Homo sapiens: one gene and its partner. The protein of the gene in region 1 purifies or fractionates together with the protein of each later gene. This does not show direct contact. Each region holds a gene or a part of one and is shown on either strand. Other genes may lie near its edges. The genes, in order: CFAP65 and GART.

Region 1 (3,815 bases):
TCCAAAGAGTGATGCAAAGACACCCTAAAATGAAACAACTTCTACTTTATCCTTGAGGAACGGCCTTGGAGGCCTGAGTTTCCCAGGGGCCTGTGCCCCCGCCCCCCTGCCCCCCCCCCGCCCCTTTCTGGAGGTCTCTGGAGAACAAAAGCATTCTTTGGTGTCAGCTCGTGGCCTCCTTCAATTCCCCGTTCCCAGGGCGTTGACTGGGCTGCAGGGCAGCACCTCTGATCTACTTGGAGACAGCTCCTCCCAAGCCCCCATAGGGCCCTGAGTGTGTGTCCCAGGGTGGAGGTCTGAGCGGGGGGCCGCTTTCCTCCTCTCCCACCCCCAGCTATTTCCAGCAGTGTCCTCCGGTGAGCCCACCTACCGCAGCCTGCTCCTGGTCAACAAAGACTGCAAGCTGCTGACCTTCAGCCTGGCCCCCCAGAGAGGCTCAGACGTCATCCTTCGGCCCACTTCGGGCCTTGTGGCACCCGGGGCCCACCAGATCATCCTCATCTGCACCTACCCTGAGGGCAGCTCCTGGAAGCAGCACACTTTCTATCTGCAGTGCAATGCTTCCCCCCAGTATCTCAAGGTAGGAGGCAGAGGGAGGGGACCTGGGTCCTTGGGAATGGGCCATAATCTTGAACCACCCTTTTCAAGGCCATATTCTGGGGTTGGCCCCTAAGATTTCCAGGGGGCCACTTCTCCTCCAGGAAGTAGCATAGTAGGGAAAGAACCTGCTTGACCACTTCTGTGAACAACTCTCCCACCCCTCAGGGCCTTGCCTGTCCCCCTTATGGGGTCTGAGGCCAAGAAAGAGGGTGCAGAGAACCCAGAGGAAGGATCTGGGGGAGGCAAAAGACACCTGCAGGTGGTAGAGGGATATTTGGGTCCAGGCCAGCAATAGACTCTGAGATGGTGGGCCCATGTCTGGCCCCGTGGAATGGTCTATAGATCCTCTCTCAGTCCCTGAGTTCTTTTCAAGAATTATCTCCTGGGCCAGTCACCATTGACTCTGCTTTTGACAGAAACTGCCGGTACACGGGCTGGCAGAGGGCCTTTGACTGCCTGCTTCAAGTGGGGAAAGCTGCCTAGCCATGGCTTCCTGGACATGTTGTGGGGGGCTGGGACTGCAGAGTGAGGTCAGGGCACTGCCCTTCTTCCTCTGGCTCCAGGAGGTGAGCATGTACAGCCGGGAGGAGCCACTGCAGCTGAAGCTGGACACCCACAAAAGCCTCTACTTCAAGCCCACCTGGGTGGGCTGCTCCTCCACCAGCCCCTTCACCTTCCGCAACCCCTCGCGTCTGCCCCTGCAGTTCGAGTGGAGGGTCTCTGAGCAGCATCGAAAGCTGCTGGCTGTCCAGCCCTCCAGGGGGCTAATCCAGCCCAACGAGAGACTTGTGAGTGGCTCCCCTCCTGCCGAGTGACGGCAACCTTCACTTCTGTCATCTCTTATTTGTGCCTATCATAGCCCAGACTTGCCATGTGCAGCCCCCAATTCCATCCACAGTAACTTCCCCCACCTGGCGATGAGGTGTTATTATTACCCTCACCATCCCCCCACCATTTTACAAATAATTGAGGCTTGAGAAGGGGAAGCCATTTACTAAGATCATAAGTTAGGCCGTGCAGGGCTGGGACTGGAACCAGTGTTTCTGATGCCAGGCCTGAGAGGCATGTCACCTCCCCATCCATGGTCCCCAAAGCTGGGAGGTCATTGGGAGGGTGGGTTGCAGCAGCTGGATTTGGGCCCAAATGGCCAGCCACCAGTGAGGGTGAGGAAGGAGACTGTAGTCACAGTGGGGGTGCTGGCTGGGATTCAAAATAGCAGACCCCTGTCCCTAGTCTAGAACCTTACCGACGGGTTGGGGAGGCCAAACTTGGGACAAGAAGCACCAGCACAGGCATCTGTAAGAGCCAAGGGGACAGCCCCTCGGGGGGACAAGAGGCCTCATAGCCTGTGGAGTTGGCCTGGAATGTTGACATCCCGCTCCCACCCTCACTACTGTCTGACCCTGGGCAAGGGACCCCACTTCTCTGAACTTTCAGTTTCTCATCAGAAAATGAGGCATGGAAATAATACTACTGACCCCGTGGGGATATAGGATTGAGGGGATTGGGGAGACTCCATACATGTGCCGTGTACAATGCCTGGCATAGGGTAGATTCTGAGAAAGGGCTAACGTAGCATGACGCCCTGCCATGGGGCCTCGGATGGCCAGGTACCTGTGGAGGGGCTTCCGAAGGCCACTGCAGGGATCATTTCTGTGACCCCAGACGCTGACGTGGACCTTCAGCCCTTTGGAGGAGACCAAGTACCTGTTCCAAGTGGGGATGTGGGTCTGGGAAGCCGGCCTGTCCCCAAATGCCAACCCCGCTGCCACCACCCACTACATGCTCCGGCTGGTGGGCGTTGGGCTCACCAGCAGCCTCTCTGTGAGTGGGAGGGCTCTGGCAGGAGGGGGCTGGGGGAGAGGCCCGGACAGGTGGGAGGGAAGGCCCCAGGGAACCTCCCAAGGTGGGAGGGAAGGCCAAGAGGGCAGAGGATAGGAGCCCTCTGCCCCGGATACCCCAAACTTGCCCTTCCTTGGGGGATGCTCTGAAAATGGGGCTGGGAGAGTGGGGCTGTGGGCCTGGAGGAGCTCCCACTCCCGGCTGGCTGACTGTGGCCTCCAGGCAAAGGAAAAGGAGCTGGCCTTTGGGAATGTGCTGGTGAACAGCAAGCAGTCCAGGTTCCTTGTCCTCCTGAATGACGGCAACTGCACCCTCTATTACCGCCTCTACCTGGAGCAGGGCAGCCCTGAGGCCGTTGACAACCACCCCCTCGGTACTTGGGCCTGAGCTGGGACTGGGGCCAGGGGAGGTGGGAGGAGGTACTGGTTAAGACCGGTTAACCTGCTGGGCACACTGGCACGCGCCTGTAGTCCCAGCTCTTCAAGAAGCTGAGGTGGGAGTATTGCTTGAGCCCAGGAGTTCCACGCTGCAGTGCACTATGATCACAACTGTGAAGAGCCACTGCCCTCTAGCCTGGGCAACATAGCGAGACCCCACCTCTGAGCCTCAGCTTCCTCATCTGTTAAAAGGGGCACCAGGTGGCACCTACCTCACAGGGCTGCTAGGTGGGGAAAAGTGCTTAGCAGGTGCCAATGACACAAAGTTAGGTGTGGTCCCTCTGACCCAGGCTGGGAGGAGGGGCTCCACTCCCTGTTTCCTGCCTCAGGGCCTGCTGTCCTCCCCTGGTGCCCAGGGAAGGGTATCTACAAAGGAGCAGGAGGAATGGCTGGGCCTCCTCTACCCACTGACCCTCCGGCATCATCCCTGAGCAGCTCTGCAGCTGGACCGAACAGAGGGGAGCATGCCACCCCGGTCCCAGGACACCATCTGCCTGACTGCCTGTCCCAAGCAGCGGTCCCAGTACTCCTGGACCATCACCTACTCTCTCCTTTCCCACAGAGGTACCTAGACTGCCTGGCATAGAGAGTCGGGGCCGGGGAAATGCAGGATGAAGGGGGAGGGCTGTGTGAGGCAGTGGATGCCGAGCGTCAGGCAGAGCTGGCAGGGTGAGTGGGGTGTGCTGAGGTGTGCCTTTGGTGTCTGGCATAAATGCCACACACCAGACATGTCTGTCCAGATGAGTGTCCATATGTGCATGTGCCCAGTGCAAAGAGTTAGGAGCTGTGCTGACTTATTGTGAAATCTTAGCCCCCAAGCCTCGCTGGGCCTCATCTTCCTTCTCCGTAAAATGGAGTACTTACTAGCCTGCCCCAGGCAGGTTGGAAGGAGTCCAGGGCAGCACAGAGAGGAAATTGAGAGTGTGGACTGGGGCC
Region 2 (3,815 bases), on another chromosome or scaffold:
GGGGTTGGCGCTGTCCTTGTGGTATCAAAGGAGCAGACAGAGCAGATTCTGAGGGATATCCAGCAGCACAAGGAAGAAGCCTGGGTGATTGGCAGTGTGGTTGCACGAGCTGAAGGTACTTGCTCCTTACTCATTTTTAGATATATAATTTTAGCTGTATAATTTTAGCTATACCTCAGCCTTGCCTCACAAGCTTTCTGCCCACCTTTTAGTGCAGCCATCGCTATGGCAACTATCTTTACACAGATGTAACATGACAGCACCCACCCCAGCGATACCACGTATCTCTTCATTTCTGCCTCAGAACTAAGCATTCATGCATGCACAGCCACACCCCACAGGATCGCTTCCCAAAGTAATCTCCCTACACACAAGACCTCATGGCTCTGCTGTCACTCAGCTCGATTCAAGGAATAGCGAGCAAGCACCCTGACAAGTACTGTATCAGTCAGGACTCTGCGAGAAGTGCTAGAACTTGGCAGAGGGGCAGAAAATCCACTCAGATTCACTAACAAAGACGTCACATGCTTGCTTTGGCAGGACACATACTAAAATTGGAACGATACAGAGAAGATTCACAAAAATAAAAAATAGAAAAAAAAAATGTCAGACCTTGTTGACTTTACCTGTATCTGCCTTTCTTTCCTCTATTGTGTAGGATTCATTTTCAAGCGGGTTCTCCAAATGCCGGAAAGATAACATCCTTCAGCTCACATTACAATAAGAAAGAGAGACCCAGCCGGGCGTGGTGGCTCACGCCTGTAATCCCAGCACTTTGGGAGGCCGAAGCGGGTGGATCACGAGGTCAGGAGATCAAGACCATCCTGGCTAACTCAGTGAAACCCCGTCTCTACTAATAAATACAAAACATTAGCCGGGCGTGGTGGCGGGCGCCTGTAGTCCCAGCTACTCGGGAGGCTGAGGCAGGAGAATGGCGTGAACCTAGGAGGCGGAACTTGCAGTGAGCCGAGATCGCGCCACTGCACTCCAGCCTGGGCAACAGAGCGAGACTCCATCTCAAAAAGAAAAAAAAGAGAGACCCTCTTTTTCTTAACATCGCATATCAAGCCTTTAAATGGCTTTGCTAGGTCACATGCTTATCCCCGAGACCAGGAGATCATGGCACTACTGTGGGTGGTCTCGCTAGGAAGATTTGGGGAGTAGGGGCAGAATACTGGCAGGCAGTCATATATATCCACCGTGCACTTCAAGATAGTGATGTGATCTGCAGCTTTTAGTTGAAGTAATTACATATGTTCACCTTTTGGAAGTTTTTATGAAAGAGTAGTGTTAAGTGATACAAATGTGTTGTTCATTTTAGTCCTTGCATTATCTTATTTTCAGGATAAAACATACCCTAAAGTTTTCATAAAATATTTTTCTTTCCATTATTCTTGTTAATTCACAATTGTTCTTTACTTATTTATGGATATGTTTGAAATGAAGGTTCCCCACGTGTGAAAGTCAAGAATCTGATTGAAAGCATGCAAATAAATGGGTCAGTGTTGAAGAATGGCTCCCTGACAAATCATTTCTCTTTTGAAAAAAAAAAGGCCAGAGTGGCTGTCTTAATATCTGGAACAGGTGAGATGTGGCTTCCCCTTCACTGTAGAGCTGTTGACTGCCCTTCCTTTCCTCCCCGCACTCTTGTGAGATTGTAAGGTTACTCTCGGCAGAGTCTAGGGACTGGGGGGAATCATGAGGGTTGTCTTTGTCTTTTCAGCATTCTTAGTCTTTCCACTTTTCTTAGGAATTTGAGACAGCTCCCAAAGAAAAAAGTAAAGGATGTCAGAAAGCTGGTTAAAGAGAAACCAGAAAAGATAGAAGCTACAGCTCATTTTGTATCATAGCTTTGTTGTTGAAAAGTCTGAAAACAGTTGAGGAATTTTTATTGTTATCTTATTAATTAGAAGAAGTTTATGTTTAACCTTTATGGATAGAGGGGTAAAGTAATAAGAGTATTGTATTCTCTCAGATGGATGTAGCCTGATTTTTTTCCCTCTATTGTAAGTAACACTGCTATGAACATTCTTGCAAATATTCAGTATGTTCTTAAATGCATATGTGATTTTTTTTTATTTGATGGCCAAGATCATAGTGATTCTTTTTGAGACAGTCTTGCTATGTTGCCCAGGCTAGAGTACAGTAGCTATTCACAGATGCAGTCATAGTACACTGCAGCTTCCAGCTCTGGCCTCAAGCAATCCTTCCGCCTTATTAGCCCCCCGAGTAGCTGGGACTGCAGGCATGCAGCACCACAACCAGCTCTGATACTTCTTCAGGATTCATTCCCAGAAGTTTAATTGCTTTACAGGTCGATCTTAAGGTTTTAATGTACTTTAGGCCCAAGTTGATAATAAAGCAAAGAAGCTATTGTAAGATGCAGCCATAAAAAAGAATAAAACCACATCATTTGCAGCAATATGGATGGAACTGGAGGCCATTATCCTGAGTGAACTGCCTCAGAAACAGAAAACCAGATATTGCATGTTCTCACTTATGAGTGGGAGCTAAACAGTGGGTACATGTGGACATAAAGATGGAAACAATAGGGCCGGGTGCTGTGGCTCACGCCTGTAATCCTAGCACTTTGGGAGGCTGAGGCGGGCGGATCACAAGGTCAAGAGATCGAGACCATCCTGGCCAACATGGTGAAACCCTGTCTCCACTAAAAATACAAAAATTAGCTGGGCATGGTGGCACACGTCTGTAGTCCAGCTACTCTGGAGGCTGAGACAGGAGAATTGCTTGAACCCTGGAGACAGAGGTTGCAATGAGCTGAGATTGCACCACTGTACTCCAGCCTGGAGACAGAGCAAGACTCCATCTCAAAAAAAAAAAAAAAAAAAAAGATGGAAACAATAGATACAAAACAGGGAAGTGTGGGAGAAGAGGTGAGGGTTGAAAATTTTTCTATCAGGTATAATGTTCACTATGTAGGTAATAGGTACACTAGAAGCCCAGTCCCCACCATTATACAACATTCCCATGTAATAAACAAGCGTGTGTACCCCCGAATCTAAAATTTTTTTTTTTTAAAGAAACTATTGTAAGAGTCATAGCATAGTGGTTTGTTCTTGAGAGGGTCAGTTTTTCTTGCTTAATTAAGCAGCTTATTTCTCATCAGTCAGTTTTAACATAATGTTATACTGTTTCTACTACAATGCTAGATCACAAGATACAGAATTTGTGGGAGCAATTACATATCCTAGGAGCAATTACATATCCTAAACCACGTCGTTTGCAGCAATATGGATGGAACTGGAGGCTATCCAGGAATATCTGTGCTTTTCACAATCTATTAATCCATTATCCCAAGAGGAAGGGAGTTTTTTTAATTTTTAATTTGTATGGGTACATGGTAGGTATATATATTTATAGGGTACATGAGATCTTTTGATACAGCCATACAACCTGTAATAATCACATCCCTGTAAATGGGGTATTCATCACCTCAAGCATTTATTCTTTGTGTTACAAACAATCCAGTTATTTTATTTCAGTTTTTTTTTGTTTTGTTTTTGTTTTTGTTTTTGAGATAGAGTCTCACTCTGTCGCCCAGGCTGGAGTGCAGTGGCGCAGACTCGGCTCACTGCAAACTCCGCCTCCCAGTTTCAAGTGATTCTTCTGTCTCAGCCTCCTGAGTAGCTGGGATTACAGGCACCTGCCACTATGCCTGGCTAATTTTTTGTATTTTTAGTAGAGATGGGGTTTCATCATGTTGGCCAGGCTGGTCAGGCTGGTCTTGAACTCTTGACCTCAGTATGATCCGCCTGCCTTGGCCTCCCAAAGTGCTGGGATTATAGGTGTGAGCC

What was found.
Region 2: the proteins of CFAP65 (region 1) and GART fractionate together in Homo sapiens (co-fractionation; one large-scale study listed by BioGRID). This does not show direct contact.

The regions. Positions count from the first base shown.
Region 1 is NC_000002.12:219,020,780-219,024,594, reverse strand, and holds part of CFAP65 (cilia- and flagella-associated protein 65), read left to right. Parts: intron 1-334; coding exon 335-580; intron 581-1,163; coding exon 1,164-1,388; intron 1,389-2,265; coding exon 2,266-2,424; intron 2,425-2,664; coding exon 2,665-2,815; intron 2,816-3,314; coding exon 3,315-3,443; intron 3,444-3,815. UniProt on the Homo sapiens protein: Plays a role in flagellar formation and sperm motility.
Region 2 is NC_000021.9:33,507,552-33,511,366, reverse strand, and holds part of GART (trifunctional purine biosynthetic protein adenosine-3), read left to right. Parts: coding exon 1-115; intron 116-1,446; coding exon 1,447-1,584; intron 1,585-3,815. UniProt on the Homo sapiens protein: Trifunctional enzyme that catalyzes three distinct reactions as part of the 'de novo' inosine monophosphate biosynthetic pathway.